Regions from separate parts of the Homo sapiens genome. Here region 2 is linked to region 1. Evidence: fine-mapped expression QTL. Tissue or cell type: T cells. Region 1 holds a variant in brackets; the other region holds the start of a gene. All regions are shown on one strand. Distances are between the middles of the regions.

What was found. PIP is the estimated chance that this variant, and not a neighbour inherited with it, causes the effect.
Region 2: SLC7A4 starts here. The variant in region 1 is fine-mapped to the expression of SLC7A4 in T cells (TOPMed, PIP above 0.99).

Annotation. Positions count from the first base shown.
Region 1 is chr22:21,048,561-21,056,648 of GRCh38, reverse strand. It overlaps LRRC74B (leucine rich repeat containing 74B), which reads right to left. Exons shown (of 10, transcript NM_001291006.2): 4 at 7,492-7,698; 5 at 4,291-4,400; 6 at 3,174-3,289; 7 at 1,473-1,551. Among named protein-coding and RNA genes, the nearest start is that of LRRC74B, 6.7 kb to the right of the region's middle. RefSeq lists enhancers at 524-1,056, 3,262-3,773, 3,774-4,287. The variant C/T (reference allele first, on the strand shown) is at 4,015.
Region 2 is chr22:21,028,163-21,036,250 of GRCh38, reverse strand. SLC7A4 (solute carrier family 7 member 4) reads left to right here and starts at 3,690. Exons shown (of 5, transcript NM_004173.3): 1 at 3,690-3,720; 2 at 4,399-5,420; 3 at 5,900-6,540; 4 at 6,807-6,915; 5 at 7,021-7,533. The coding sequence starts at 4,439. The coding sequence ends at 7,196. It overlaps MIR649 (microRNA 649), which reads left to right and starts at 1,979; the gene lies at 1,979-2,075. RefSeq lists an enhancer at 3,634-4,144.

The DNA of each region.
Region 1 (8,088 bases):
TAGTACCGTGTGTGTGTGTGTGTGTGTGTGTGTGTGTGTGTGTGTGTGTGTGCTCCAAGCTTGGGGTGAGAGCACTGAACTTGGAAGAGAGGGGCTGGCAGAGCCCAGATCCCCCATGACATGCTATGTTACTTTTTTTTTTTTTTTGAGACAGAGTCTTGCTCTGTCATCCAGACTGGAGTGCAGTGGTGAGATCTCAGCTCACTGCAACCTTCACCTCCTGGGTTCAAAGGATCCTCCTGCCTCAGCCTCCAGAGTAGCTGGGATTATAGGTGTGCATCACCACATCTGGCTCATCTTTTTGTTTTCAGTAGAGACAGGGTTTCACCATGTTGGTCAGTCTGGGCTCAAACTCCTGACCTCAAGCGATCTGCCTGCCTCAGCCTCCCGAAGTGCTGGGATTATTGGCGTGAGCCACCACACCTAGCTCCGCATGACATGATGCACTCAAAGCTTGGGTTTATCCAGAGGGGATAAAACTCCAACAGTTTTAAAGCAGGGCATGTTTCTGGTCCTGGGTAGCAGCTGGGAAGAAAGAACCGCAGCCAGGAATCCCGCAAGTTCACAGAAGCTAAGAGAGGAAGTCAGAAGAGGGAGGAGTCAGCAGGGTGAGCCCCTGCAGAAGGTGGGAGGGAGGGTGTGGAAAAGGGAGGGGCAGGCAGGCTCTGGGCCCCAGCTGGTGACTTGGGAAGAAGGAAGAAGGAGCCCCCCACCAGGAGGTGGCCCTTAGAGGGGGGTATGCGTTCAGGTTGGACTCTCACATTCCCACGTGTCTTTGGGACATTTAGAGGACTGTCTACGAGGTGACTCGAAACGCAGGTCTATGCTTCAGAGAGGTCCAGGTTCCTGTGAGGCAGGAAGCAGGGGAGGAGAGCTATGGGAGAAGCCCAGTAAGGCTAGGGTGGGGAGCTGAGGGCCGACAGAGCTGGATGTCCATACCCAGCTGGCAATACTGTCCCCCAGCACGTACCTGCTGTGGGCACAGTGGTCCCCTGGGGACCTGCTCCCGGCTTGCCTCCCTCCTGTGTCTGTCTTCTGCTCCCTGTCCTGCTCAGCACTCCCTCCCCACCTGCAAACCCAGGGGAAGGAACCCCAGCTGGGAACACCAGGCCTCAGGTGGGCCTGAGCAGTGGCCAACAGAACACCTGGGTGGGGCCTGGGTCTCAGCAAGGCCAGAGGAAAGGCAGGGGAGAAGATGAGGGAGACACAAGGGGTGCCCAGCCACCTTCAGCAGAGCAGCACCCCAGCCCACAGAGGAGGAAGGGCAGCAAGAAGATGTGGGAGAGAGGCTGGGAGGGATGAAGGGGAGAAGAGGAGGGCCAGGCCCCAGATTCAGGGTGAGTGGCAAGGGAGTGAGCCAGCCTGTGTGCACCTGCCTGCTGCCCCTGGGTGGGGGCTGTGGGGGAGGGATCTGTGTGGACTGTTACAGGGCAGGTCTGTGCTGGTGTCTCAGTCATCAGGCTAGCACTCACTACAAGAATCCTCAGCGTCTGGTTGACCCGGAGGCCCAGGCCCAGGCTCAGGGCTCCCATCGCAGAGATGCGGTTGTTACTGCAACAAAAACAACAGGCACATGCATTGTGCAACCTTCCAAGCAGCGGTGCAGAGCCCACTGCCCCAGGGTGCCCACTGGAGCTGCCATTGCAGCCACCAGGTTGGGTCTCTTGTTCCCTCCACTCACACCCCAGGAACCCTGGACAGATCAACAGGTAAAAGGTGGAGATGACACCGTTCAGAGGAATCACACGGCAAACACACCTAAAGCGTCCCTGTCCTGGTGGACACCAGCTGCCGCTCCTCTGAGCTCTGCAAGTGCTCCCACATATTCTGCCCCAGCTGACACCTCATGCCTATCACCATTACAACGCCTGTTCCAGAAAATCACCTAGCTTATGTTCAAGGCCTCTCCTCCTCCTGCCGTTCCCAAACTCCAGTCCTCAGCACCGCCCTGGACCACTTTGTCTCCGGAGTCAGTCCCGCTTCTCTCTGACTTCTCAGACCCCAGCTCTGGCTGCACCTCCGTATTCAGCCTCCGCGGCTGCCTCCAGTCTTAGCTCCTCCCATGGGGAGGAAAGCTGGGCAGGATTGAGTGGGGCCTTCTTGCCCACAGGGAGCTGCCCCTGGGGAGGGTCTCAGCCACAGCAGCCCATGACCTCCCTGGCCTCTGGCCCGTGACCTCCCTGGCATCCGCCTCTTTTCTTCCCTCTGGGCTTGTGCCTCCTGGCTAGGCTGGGACGCTGCCTGGCCTGGAGGAGCCCCTCACACAGGGCATGCTCCAGTAGCCACATGCTGAGCAAAACAGGCACTGGGGCCCACTTGTCAGGGTCCTGCCTTGCCCCACCCAGACTAGGCTCGTTTTACTCGCTCTGTTGCAATGCAGCCTGAAATCCTGAATCCTCGGCTCAAGCAATCTTCCTGCCTCAGCCTCCCAAGTACCAGGAATGATAGGTGTATGCCACCGGAAATGGACAATTTTTAGATTTCGCATAGAGATGGAGTCATGCTATATTGCCTAGCCTGGTCTCAAAATCCTGTCCTTAATGGATCCTCCCGCCTCAGCCTTCCTAGGTGCTAAGATTACAGTTGTGAGCCACAGAACCTGGCCCTGGCTCGTCTTCTGCAAGGGAGGAAAGCTTGCATGGAGCACCCACCATGCACCAGGCTCTGCCGGAGATGCTTTATACACCGTGTGCAATTCGCAGCCATCCGCCTGTGCTATAGGAATCACAGGTCTCTATGTAACAACGATGAACTCCCCATGACTGTAATTCCAGCACTTTGGGAGGCTGAGGCAGGAAGACTGCTTCAGCCCAAGAGTTCAAGGCCAGCAGGAGACTGTCTCTACAAAAAAGAAAAAATTAGCCAGGCTTGGTGACATACTCCTGTAGTCCCAGCTACTTGGGAGGCTGAGGTGGTGGGATTGCTTGAGCTGGGAAGGCCAAGGCTGCAGTGGGCCATGATCACAGCACTGCACTCTACCCTGGGCAATAAAGCAAGATGCTGTTTTAAATAAATAAATAAAATTATAAACTCCAGTGATAAGGATGACAGAGCTGCTCTGGGATTGTGGCTCAAGCCCCATCACGGGAATCCCCATCACGGGTAGACTGTGTGCTTCAGCAGCAAGATCATGGAGCCCATGATTCCTGGGGTGTCCCCCCGGGGATCCTCACCTCATGTTGAGTTCCTCCAACACGTTGTTGGCCTTCAGAGCCTCACCCACCGCAGAGGCTCCAGGATCCCCAAAGCCATTGTATGAGATGTCTAGAACTTTAAGGAAGATGTTTGCCTAGAATACCAAAGAGTGAAGTCATGGGACCCCATCTGACAGTGGAGCAAGCCAGGGTGCCACAGCCTCAGAGACCAGGAGCCCTGAGGTGCAAAGATAAGAGATAAAGGGCAGAAGGGGAGAGGCTCCAAGGAAGGGTCAGGAAAGTGCCATGCAGACCCCCTGGTGGCTGCAGCTTGGATGATGGTGGTCAACAGAGCCCAGTGGCCCAGAGCACAACAGGAAAGGACCGGTGTAGACGTGAATGGCCCTCAGAGAGACTGGGAGGGGCGTGTGCAGAGCAGCAGCAGGCCCCAGAAACATTGATCGGACTCCACACCCACTTAATGGCTCTAGAGGGCAGGGATCCCAAGATCCAGTGAACAGCTGTTGGATGAAACCTGTCCAGCGTACTGTGATGGGGAGAAGGGTAGGTGCTCTGGCAAGACAGAGTGTGACATGCCATCTTGTGGGGCAGGACCCCAAGGTCAGCCCCTGCATCAGGGCAAGACAGCAGCTGCCATGGCCTGAGGAGGGCCCCACAGGGTATCTGGCACTGGGGACATTGCAGACACCTTGTACCACCCTAGCACCAGCTTGAGCCACCCATTCCCGAGCCCTATGAACCACAACATGGAAGGGAACAGGTGGGTGTTTGAGAGGCTGTGCTGGCATCCAAGGGTGCAAGGTGTCATCTCAGGAAACCACCTGCGTATGCCCAACAGTGAGCATGTGTCACCAGACTG[C/T]ACAGATGTCCCTTCCCAGCTGGGTGTCTATGGTGTCTGGGGAAGGTGCAAGATATTCAACAGTGACCCTTCAGGAAAGTATGTGACGGTGAGCACAGTGTATTGTGGTCACTAAGTGAAGCCAGGAAAATTAAAATCACCTAAAGAAACAGTCTTTAAGCTGTGCTTAAAAGATCCAAGGTTCATTTCCGAGGAGCTGCAGAGACAGGGAGGTGGCCCCTGGGAGACAGGCCCCAGCAGACAGGCTGTAGGGCCGACTAGGTGGGGGCTTCATACCTCCAGTCCCCTGGCAAATGCCACAGCTCCTGGGCCCCGGAGGTGATTCCAGCTCACGTTAAGCTCGGTGAGTCCTGTGTTTTCTGCCAGGGCTGGTCCAAGTGTCTCCCCTTCAGAAACACCAAGAGAGACCTTCTGACTCACTCTCTTCACTCCTTCAAAAGATCACACTGATGCCCACTGCGTGCCGAGCCTCTGCTGGGCAGGAGGGTCACAGACATGAAACTAATGTGGGCCTGCGGTGCCCTTAAGGAACTCACATTTCATGGGGGAGATACAAATGCAAATGTATGGGATGTGAGCTATTCATTTAGACTAAAAGGGGGAGGCGTGAGAACAGAGTGGTGGCCAGCCTGTCTTGGGGGAAGTCAGGAAAGAGGACAGAGGAGATAACTCAGGACTGAGGAATTCCCCAGGGGTGTGTGCATGCACAGTGGGGAGGAGACACAGGAAACTGCAAATGGCAGGGGCACCTGTGGAAATGCACACAGGCTTATGCACAGTGGGGAGGAGACACAGGAAACTGCAAATGGCAGAGGCACCTGTGGAAATGCACGCAGGCTTGGAGCTGGGCCTGGGGAGGGGGAAGCCAGTGAGGTGAGGAAGGAGTAATGGGCACTTGAGAGATGCTGAGGGGCCTTGTGTGCCAAGCCAAGGGGCTTAGGCAGCACATACAAGTGGCAAGGAGTCAGGGAGGGCCTTAGGAAGTGATGAGGCTGGATTAGCATTTCAGCAAGTGGCAGGTGTCCAGGATAGACTGGGCTGGGTGGGGGCAGAGGCAAGAGGCTGGGGGACCAGATGGAAGGCTGGTGCCATAGGCTAGGCAAGAGGCAACAGGGCTGGCACAGCTGTGGTAGAGAGGAGATGGGGGTGGTAGAGAAAGGAAGGTGAAAGCCAGGCAGTGGTGTGAGCCTGTGGTCCCAGCGACTCAGGAGGCTGAGGCAGAAGGATTTCTTGGCGCCAGGAGTTCAAGACCAGCCTGGGCAAAATAGCGAGACCTAGAGATGAAGGCGGAGCAACATGGCCGAACAGAACCCTCCAGCGGTCATCCTACAACCCTCACAGGAACACCAAAGCGAACATTTATACACACAAGAAAGCGCCTGCAGAAGAGCCAGAAACCAGCTGCACATCACAGTACCTGCTTTTAACATCATAACAGGGAAACAGGCACTAAAGAGGAAAGAAAGTATTTTTTGTTGTTGTTAAGACACGGTCTCACCCTGTTGCCCAACCCGGAGTGCAGTGGGACAATCACGGCTCACTGCAGCCTTGACATCTTGGGCTCAAGCAATTCTCCCACCTCAGCCTCCTGACTGAGACTACAGGCACATGTCACCACTTGGGGCTAATTTTTTTTTTTTTTTTTTTTTTTTTTGAGACGGAGTCTCGCTCTGTTGCCCGGGGCTAATTTTTTTAATCATTTGTTGTCACCACTGGGGCTCCCTATGTTGCCCAGTTTGGTTTCTAACTCCTGGCCTCAAGCAATCTTCGCCCCTCAGCCTCCCGAAGTGGTGTTGGCATTACAGATAGGCACAGTGCCTTGCCAAGTCTCACTTTTTTTTTTTTTTTTTTTTTTTTGAGACAGAGTCTCGCTCTTTCGCCCAGGCCGGACTGCAGTGGTGCTATCTCGGCTCACTGCAAGCTCCGCCTCCTGGGTTCATGCCATTCTCCTGCCTCAGCCTCCCATGTAGCTGGGACTACAGGCGCCTGCCACCACACTCGGCTAATTTTTTGTATTTTTAGTAGAGACGGCATTTCACCGTGTTATCCAGGATGGTCTCGATCTCCTGACCTCATGATCCACCTGCCTTGGCCTCCCAAAGTGCTGGGATTACAGGCGTGAGCCACCGGGCCCGGCCACCTCACTTAATTTCACTGACTTCTTGCAATAATTTTCTTAGAAGGCAAACTGGTTCTCTGGCAGTTATATGCCAGAGGCAATTCTCACAGGCCAAGGCTGATGTCACCCCACTTGCTCTAAGCAGCTGGAGACAGAGGAGTGCTTCTGAAAAACAATTCTCGGCCAGGCGCGGTGGCCCACACCTGTAATCGCAGCACTTTGGGAGGCCAAGGCGGGCGGATCACAAGGTCAGGAGTTCGAGACCAGCCTGACCAACACGGTGAAACCCCATCTCTACTAAAAATAGAAAAATTAGCCAGGCCTTGTCGCACGCACCTGTAATCCCAGCTACTCAGGAGGCTGAGGCAGGAGAATTGCTTGGACCTGGGAGGCAGAGGCTGCAGTGAGCAGAGATCACACCATTGCACTCCAGCCTGGGTGACAGAGCGAGACTCTGTCTCAAAAAATAAAAAATAAAAAGACGATTCTCCTGGGGCAACCATTAAAATACAGATTCACCAGCATTCCCCTAAGAGTTTGGTTCAGCAGGTCCAGGGTCAGCATCTGCATGCCTAACCCAGGGTCTCAGGTGATCCTTACCATTATTGGACCATTTGAGGAGAGGCAGGTAGAAGTGCAAATTCCTGGCAAAGCAGACAGCTCCTGAATATGCTCAGGGGCATGACAGTGATGAGATCAAGGAATCCCAATCACATCCGCTACCTCACTTGAAACAAAATCTTCACCGTTTTTGCCACGGCCTACAGCCCTGCAGCCCCCTCTGCCCTCTCCACCCCACAGCCTGGCCACGCTTCCCTGGCTCCCTAGCCTAGGCACACTGCTGTCCGCCAGTCTGGGAAACAGGCCCGCATGCTCACTATTCCTCTGCTTGCAATGCTCTCCCTCTGATCTTGCCATGGCTGACTCCTTCCCACCCTGCACATTTCAGCTTAAATGTCACCTCACAGAGGCCTCCCCAGCCACCTCTTTAAAGTAGGGGGTCCCTGTTCTTCTCTAGAATCATAAACTATTTGTTTCTTTTGTAGCACCAATAATTACTCAGAATGATGTTGTTAACATTGTCCCTTGAGGTCAGGAACTTGGTTTTGTTCAAGGTGGATCCCTGGTGGCTAAGTCAGTGCCCAGCACATACAGCAGCGCGCAATGAGATATTTGTGGAAGGAATGAAGAGTTCCGTGTGGCTGGAGTGGAAGAGGAGTGGGGCAAGGTGGGGTGTGGGGAGCAGGAACCAGAGCACATGCTCCCTGGCGATGTGCAGCGCGGTCCTGCCAACCCCCACCCATCCCTGCCCCAGGAAGCTGAGCTTTCATGGCCATGGTGCCCTGCGCAGGCGTTACCTGCTTGGTCATTCAGCTGGTTGTAGCTCAGGTCCAGGGACTTCAGGTCTGTGTGGGCCAGCAGGAGTTCGGCAAGGTGCTGGGCCGCCTGCTCCTCCAGGCCATTCCCTGACAGCTGCATCTTCCGCATGGCCTGGTTCACTGTGAGGGCGGCACAGAGGGCCTGGGCTCCTGCCACTCCCAGCTGGTTCTCCGACAGGTCCACATCTGGGGGACAGAACCACTCCTCGGCCAGTGGGATGCAAAGCCAGGCACTCCCCTACTTCTGCCATCCCCCAAACCTCCAGGTCTGAGGCTGAGGAAGGGGACTTACAGGTTAACTGTCCTGGGGTTGCATGGTGGCTCTGGCTCCCAATGGCTGGGTCCCCTCTGCCCCTGACCTCCCCCTCCCTGTGTGCCCACCAGCTTCTGTGTCAAGTGGTTAAAACCGCCTACCTCCTGGTACTGTAGAGACTGCTGTGGTGGGGGGCAGCTATACCGTCGATGGCTGCATCTGGCAGTGATATCACCACCCACTTCAGAAGCCCTCACAGCCCCGTTGCCAGGATTGGCAATAATAGCCCAAGTGGCCATGCATGGAGCACGTACATGGGTCAC
Region 2 (8,088 bases), 20 kb after region 1:
AGGCCTGGTTGGGTGGCTCACGCTTGTAATCCCAGCACATTGGGGAGGTTGAAGCAGGTGTATCACTTGAGGAAATGAGTTTGAGACTAACCTGGCCAACATGGGAAAACCCCATTTCTACTAAAAATACAAAATTTAGCCTGGTGTGACAGTGCACGCCTGCAGTCCCCAGCCATTCGGGAGGCTGAGACATGAGAATCGTTTGAATCCTGAAGGCAGAGGCTACAGTGAGCCAAGATCACTCCACTTCACTCCAGCCTGGGCGACAGAGTGAGACTCTGTCTCAAAAATAAAAAATAAAATTAAAACGAGCTATTCAGCCATGAAAAGTCATAGAGGAATCTCAAATGCATATTATTAAGGGAAAGAAGCCTGAAAAGGCAATATACTCTATAATCCCAACTATATAAGATTCTGCAAAAGTAAGACTAGACTATGGAGACAGGAAAAAGATCGGTGGTTGCCAGGTGTTAGCAGGGAGGGACAGGCAGAGCACAGAGGGTTTTTAGGGCAATGAAACTACTGTGTGTGATACAATAATGGTGTGTCTATGTGTCATTACACATTTGTCCAAACCCATAGAATGTACAACCGGAAGAATGAACCCTAATGTAAACTATAGACCTTGGGTGATAATGATGTGTCAATGTAGGTTAATCGATTGTAACAAATATGCCCCTTTGGTGCTGGATGTCAGTAGTGGGAGAGGGGGCTACACGTGTGTGGGAGCAGAAGTATATGGGAACTGTACTTTCTGCTCAATATTGCTGTGAACATAAAACTGCTCTGAAAACTCAACTTTTTTTTTTTTTAGATACAGGGTCTTGCTATGTTGCCCAGGCTGGAGTGAAGAGGCTATTCACAGGTATGATCAAGCTCACTGCAGCCTTGAGCCTCCTAGGCTCAAGCCATCCTCCCAACTCAGCCTTCTGAGTAACTGAGACTACAGGCGTGTACCACCATTCCCAGCTAATAAAGTCTATTTTTAAAAAATCACTTGACGATAAATGTAACTGTTTATTTGTGGACTGTCAATTCTATTCCGTTCATCTATGTGTCTACTCTTATGTCACCACCACAATCTTGATTACAGTCATTTTGCAATCAGTTTAGAAATCAGGAATTGTAAGTCCTCCAAAACTTTTTCAAAAGTATTTTGACTATTCTGGATCCCTTGCATTTCCACATGAATTTTGATGATTTTTGCAAAACAGGTAGTTGGGATTTCAATAGGAATTGCACTCAATCTATGCAACCCCTGAATCTGTAGACCAGTTTGGGGAATACTGCCATTTTATATTTAAAGTCTTACAGTCTATGAACATGGGATGTCTTTCCATTTATTTATGTTGCCTTTAATTTCTTTCTTTACTTTTTTCTTTTTTTTTTGAGACAGGGTCTGACTATCACCCAAGCTGGAGTGCAGTGGCACAAACATGCCTCACTGCAACCTCAACCTCCCAGGCTCAAGAAATCCTTCCACCTCAACACCACCCCCGACTCCCAGTAGCTGAGACCACAGGCACATGCCACCATGCCCATATAATTTTTTTACCTTTCCGTAGAGGTGAGGTCTCCCTATGTTACCCAGGCAAAATACCCAAGTATTTTGGCTATTCTGGATCCCTTGCATTTCCATATGAATTTTTTGTTTTTTGTTTTTTATTTTTTTTTGAGACAGAGTCTTGCTCTGTCACCCACGCTGGAGTGCAATGGCGCCATCTCAGCTCATTGCAACCTCTGCCTCCCGGGTTCAAGCGATTCTCCTGCCTCAGCCTCCCAAGTAGCTGCGATTACAGGCACCCACCACTTATTTTAATTTATTTATTTAGTAGTTTTGGAGACAGGGTCTTGCTTTGCCACCTAGGCTGAAGTGCAGTGACAGGATCATAGCTCACTGCAGCCTCAGACTCCTGGGTTCAAGTGATCCTCTCACCTCAGCCTCCCAAAGTGATGGGATTACCGGTGTGAGCCACTGGGCCTAGCCAAATACTGTATTTTTGATCGACATTTGGTTGAAAAATATCTATGTATTAGTAAACCTGTGTTGTTCAAGAGTCCACTGTGTTTTGCTGGGGATTTCTACATCTATATTCATAAGGGATTTTGGTCTGTGGTTTTCTTTTCTTGTGATGTCTTTGTTGAGTTTAGTGTCAGGGTAATCCTGGCCTTGCAGAATGAGTTAGAAAGTTTTTGTTTCCTGGTGGTTTGTCTTCACTGCATCACTGTGGGGTTGCTCTGTGTAGCTGTCTCACTCAGTAGTGAGGGAAATATCTCTGGAAATGTACAATTTACTGCATCAGCCCTGCTTAGTCTCACATATCCGTTGTATGTTGGTGCCTGTGGCAGAGGGTGTGGTGTCACACCTTCTCCAGGTAGATAAAAAGTCAACACTCCAAAACACTGGACACCAGCAATAAGGCAGTCATTGGTAAGGCCTTTGGGGAGCTCCCATTACAAATCTGCCTAACCCTCTGGCCTGAAGTGCCTAGACTTTTGTGGTGACATTTCAGGACAAGGGACGTCTGCTCAGGCAACACAGGGATGGGGTAAGGAAGCTACCATCCCACCGGAAGTGGGAGCCATCTGAGAAGTTCCTCAAGACAATACCAGCCAAATATTAGAAGGTATTGGCATTCTGGCCGAGGCAGAATGTTCCAAATTGGCACCATCTTGTCTGGGAGTCCATCATCCTGTCACCAGCCCAATAGGCTGGATAGGCTGCAGATGCTCCTAAGATTCCATTCCACAAACCACATGTAAGCCTGAACACATGTCTAGTATAGCGTTCTGGGGAGGCCAGGAGCCATGGTTCATGAATGTAATCACAGCCTTTTGGGAGGCCAAGAGTTCGAGACCAGCCCGGGCAGCATAGTGAGACCCAGTCTCTAAAAAAATTAAAATTAAAAAATTAGCCAGGTGTATTGTTGCATAGCTGCCTGCCTGGGGCGTGGGGCACTGGAATGCAGTACTCAGGACACAGTGGCTGTCGCTGATAAACACAAGTGGGGATCTGCTATTGGGGTCCCATAGGGCCCTCCCGGCCTGCCAGAGGTGCCTAGGCTAGGAAGGGCTGCCACTGGGGTCTGAGGAGCTCTACTCCCCCACAGGAGGGCTGCAGGCTGGTCCCAGAAGCTGCTTGCTTCCTTGCAGGACGTGGTAGCTGCAGGCTCAAAACAGCCAGAATGCATTCCCTCAATTCGCAGAACTCTCTCAAAAGGCTGCAGTCTCTTCCATTGTAAGAGTAGAGGTCAGGGACCGCCCCAGGCCACTCTGCCAGACCCATGTCTTCATCTAACTCACTGTGCCTGAAGCTCACATGACGGTGCTGTGGGGCCTGTCTGGGGCCCAGCTGGGTGGGGTTCATGTACTGGGGTGAGGGATCAAGAAGGGTGTCCGCTGCAGTAGAAAGAAGGTGGGCTGCGGACTTTCAGACGTGGCCCTTAACCTCCCCGAACTGACCTAGGCTAGTCAGTCAGCCGGCGGTCTGACCTTCTCCATCTGTGACTGAGTCACAGTCACAGGGCTTCCCTAGACCCCGGTGAGCTCCGGTAACGACCTTGCGAGGTCGGGCAGAGTGGGCAGGGTGAAATATCTGGGTGTGTGGCAGCGGGTGGGGCCGCGCGGGGGGCCTGGGATGGGGGCGGGCCCTGCGCTCGGCGCCGGCGAACTGGGCGGGCTCAGTGCTCAGAGCGGAGGCAGCGGCTGCGGCAGCAGCAGGTGGGTTGCAGCAGATCCTGCGGGGACGGGGACTGGGACGGGCTCAGGCCCAAGAACAGGCGAAGGCGCAGGTGTCCGGGGACGGGGGCGCGGCGGAGCAGGCTCTAGCAGCAGCGGCGTGTCGGACATGGGGAGGTGTGCGGGCCCAGGGCGCCCCTGCATTCCGCCTGGCGCGCGGATACCCCAGCCTGGCCACGGGTGCAGGGGCGGGGGTGTATGTAGCCGCCACTGTCTGTCTGTGGCCAGGTGGCTGCCTGGGCCACACCCGCCCCGACGCAGAGCCGCGGCTCCTGTTCCGGGTCCGGCTCGACTCTGGGGAAGCCTCGGTTTCACCTGGCTCTGGGACCCCACCACTGAGCCGTTCCCAGCCTCTCACCCTGCTCCCCCTGGAGCTGCTCCCTCCCCACCCCTCAGGGCCACCGAGCGGGTGAGCAGGTGGGGCCTCACCAGGCCTCCTTTGCTGCCTGGGATGCAGACAGGGCCTCCAGGCTTCCTGTGACCTCCTGCCCACAGGTTCTGACACCTGCCCCATTCCAGCTCTCCAGCAGGCCCCTGGTGAGGGTGTCCAGGTCCCCAGGTCAGGGACAGAGAGAGGACTGGGGGTGGTCAGACCAGGAGGGATGGAAGGCTGGTCAGGCCCCGGCTACGCATCCTGTCATTCCCCTCTGGCCCTAGCAGGTTCCAGTAGCTGGCTCGGTGCTCTTCTCGGCCACCTGCCATGGCCCGGGGGCTGCCCACCATTGCTAGCCTGGCACGCTTATGCCAGAAGCTGAACCGCCTGAAGCCGCTGGAGGACTCCACCATGGAGACGTCACTGCGGCGCTGCCTGTCCACGCTGGACCTGACTCTTCTGGGCGTGGGTGGCATGGTGGGCTCGGGTCTCTACGTGCTCACAGGTGCCGTGGCCAAGGAGGTGGCTGGCCCTGCTGTGCTCTTGTCCTTCGGTGTGGCCGCTGTGGCCTCCCTGCTGGCAGCCCTATGCTATGCAGAATTTGGGGCACGTGTGCCACGCACGGGCTCTGCCTACCTGTTCACCTACGTATCCATGGGCGAGCTGTGGGCCTTCCTCATCGGCTGGAATGTTCTCCTCGAATACATCATCGGTGGCGCCGCCGTGGCCCGTGCCTGGAGTGGCTACCTGGACTCTATGTTCAGCCACAGCATCCGCAACTTCACTGAGACCCACGTGGGTTCTTGGCAGGTGCCCCTCCTGGGCCACTACCCGGACTTCCTGGCTGCTGGCATCATCCTCCTGGCCTCTGCCTTTGTCTCCTGTGGAGCCCGCGTGTCCTCCTGGCTCAATCACACCTTCTCGGCCATCAGCCTGCTTGTCATTCTCTTCATTGTCATCCTGGGCTTCATCCTGGCCCAGCCTCACAACTGGAGCGCTGACGAAGGCGGCTTTGCACCCTTCGGCTTCTCCGGCGTCATGGCCGGCACTGCCTCCTGCTTCTATGCTTTCGTGGGCTTCGACGTCATTGCCGCCTCCAGTGAGGAGGCCCAGAACCCACGGCGGTCTGTGCCTCTGGCCATCGCCATCTCGCTTGCCATTGCAGCTGGTGCCTACATCCTTGTCTCCACCGTGCTAACCCTCATGGTGCCCTGGCACAGCCTGGACCCCGACTCAGCGCTTGCAGATGCCTTCTACCAGCGGGGCTACAGGTGGGCTGGCTTCATCGTGGCAGCTGGCTCCATCTGCGGTGAGAGACTCTTCCTGGGCAGGGTGGCAGGGAAAAGAGCAAGGGGGACCTTGTCCTCAGATTCTTGGGGAATGCACCTTCAACTGGGGCTGTTTTACTAGTTGCATAATGGGGCAAGGAAAGTGCTAATTATTAGAAACTCTTCACTTCAAAAAAAGTTTCTTCAGAAACTTTGGAAGGGACCGCCCCACACATGGTCCATAGCATATTAGTTCTGGGCATGTCCTTATAGATTATTTCCTAGGCAGAGGGACTCAGCCCTCATCCGATGCTCCAGTGGGCCTGTGACCTAACCCAGATGTCCTGTTCTTGGGCAAAGCGCTGACAATCTATTACTCCTACACAAACTCATGCTTACTCTGAGAGCCCAGACAAGCTCATGCCCTTGTTCCCAAGGAGCCACCCATGCACCGACCCCCAGCAGAGGCCCCTGGTGGGCTTCTCCGCCATGCTGACCCTCCCCACTCTCTCTGCTACAGCCATGAACACCGTCCTGCTCAGCCTCCTCTTCTCCCTGCCACGCATTGTCTATGCCATGGCCGCCGATGGGCTCTTCTTCCAGGTGTTTGCCCATGTGCACCCCCGGACACAGGTGCCTGTGGCGGGCACCCTGGCGTTCGGGCTCCTCACGGCCTTCCTGGCACTGCTGCTGGACCTGGAGTCGCTGGTTCAGTTCCTGTCCCTTGGCACACTCCTGGCCTACACATTCGTGGCCACCAGTATCATTGTGCTGCGCTTCCAGAAGTCTTCCCCGCCCAGCTCCCCAGGCCCAGCCAGCCCTGGCCCCCTGACCAAGCAGCAGAGCTCCTTCTCAGACCACCTACAGCTGGTGGGCACTGTACACGCCTCCGTCCCTGAGCCAGGGGAGCTGAAGCCAGCCCTGAGGCCCTACCTGGGCTTCTTGGATGGGTACAGCCCTGGAGCAGTGGTGACTTGGGCGCTTGGCGTTATGTTGGCCTCAGCCATCACCATAGGCTGCGTGCTTGTCTTTGGGAACTCGACCCTGCACCTCCCACACTGGGGTTACATCCTGCTGCTCCTGCTCACCAGTGTCATGTTTCTGCTCAGCCTCCTTGTCCTGGGGGCTCACCAGCAACAGTATCGGGAAGACTTATTTCAGGTACCTCCCCTAGCCAACACCCACTCACACTCGGCCCAGGCAGCTGCCTCCCCTTCCCCCACTACCATCCCAGAATGAACAAGTCTCACGGGGCTGGGGAGGACCACACACCCATCCCGCACCCCTTTCTGCATGGTGAGTGAGCACATGTCTCCACAATCTCCCGTGAGGAACAAAGGCTCTATGGATTCCCGAGAAAGTGAGCCCTGGGCTGGCAGATCTTTCCTGCAGCCCGGCCCAGCCCTGCCCTGCCTCTGCCTCCTCAGATCCCCATGGTTCCCCTGATTCCAGCCCTGAGCATCGTCCTCAACATCTGCCTCATGCTGAAACTTAGCTATCTGACCTGGGTGCGCTTCTCCATCTGGCTGCTGATGGGTGAGTGGGGGCCAGGCTGGGACCGGGGTCAGGAGGAGGGCAAAGAGGACAGGAAGGGCTGGAACCTGTACCTCAGGCTCATGCCCTGCCTCCTGCCCTGTCTAGGACTTGCAGTGTATTTCGGCTATGGCATCCGGCATAGCAAGGAGAACCAGCGGGAGCTGCCAGGGCTGAACTCCACACACTACGTGGTATTCCCCAGGGGCAGCCTGGAGGAGACAGTGCAGGCTATGCAGCCCCCCAGCCAGGCACCAGCACAGGACCCTGGCCATATGGAGTAGCTGATCAGCCCACACTTGCCCCGCCCTCCCACACCTGCTTGGGAGGCCAGAGAGGCCAGACAAGCCGAGAGCCCCTTCTGTTGTGGGCAGCCTGGGTTTGCAGGCCTGCACAGGCTGGGGAGTCCTCAGGACCTTAGGACCTTCATCCAGGGGCTGGGCTTCGGGTCTTCAGGAGTGGGCCTTGGCTGGTGCTGGTGCCATGGACTCTGCCCAGAGCCTTCTTGTTTATGATCAGCTCCAGCTACCTGGGCAGTTGTGGTGGGGTGGATGGGAAGGCCCACAGCCCAAGGGATCCATAATAATAATTGCTTGGCCAGCCATGTGGCCTGCTGGCGTATCCACTGTGGCATTCTTTGTGGCACCAAGTCTTCACCTGCCCCAGGGAACCAGGCAATTGTCTCCAATCCACATCAAAGATGCTGGGGCTCTCTAAAGAGTAGGTGCCAGTCCTGGGACCACCCTGAGTCAGGGACACAGGTGGGCCTGGATCCAGGTGCCCAGTGAAGAGGGGAGCCACACACACCAGGCAAGGAGGGTTCCATGACAGGCATGGGGTCAGGCTCCCCACGTCTGCTAGGTGGCAGATCCAGGGAGCAGAGCTTGGGCCCCAAGGAGGCTGCCTAGAAAGGGCAGCAGGGTTCTGAGCATGGCATGCACCTGAGGCCTGCCTGGCACAGGCACCCCCACGGGGACACATGCATCCCTGCAGGCACTACCCTGGGGTGCATGCCTGTGCGCAGACTGAGGCGACAGCTGTTTCTGAGCTCGGGCCCAGGCTGCAGCTCTCTTGCTGTCTTTGCCCACTCTTCAAGGGCTTTGAGGTGAAAAGAGTGTGGCCCTCATGCTCCTACATGGGTGCACAAGTGCCCAGGCCTGTTCCAGTTACCTTCTA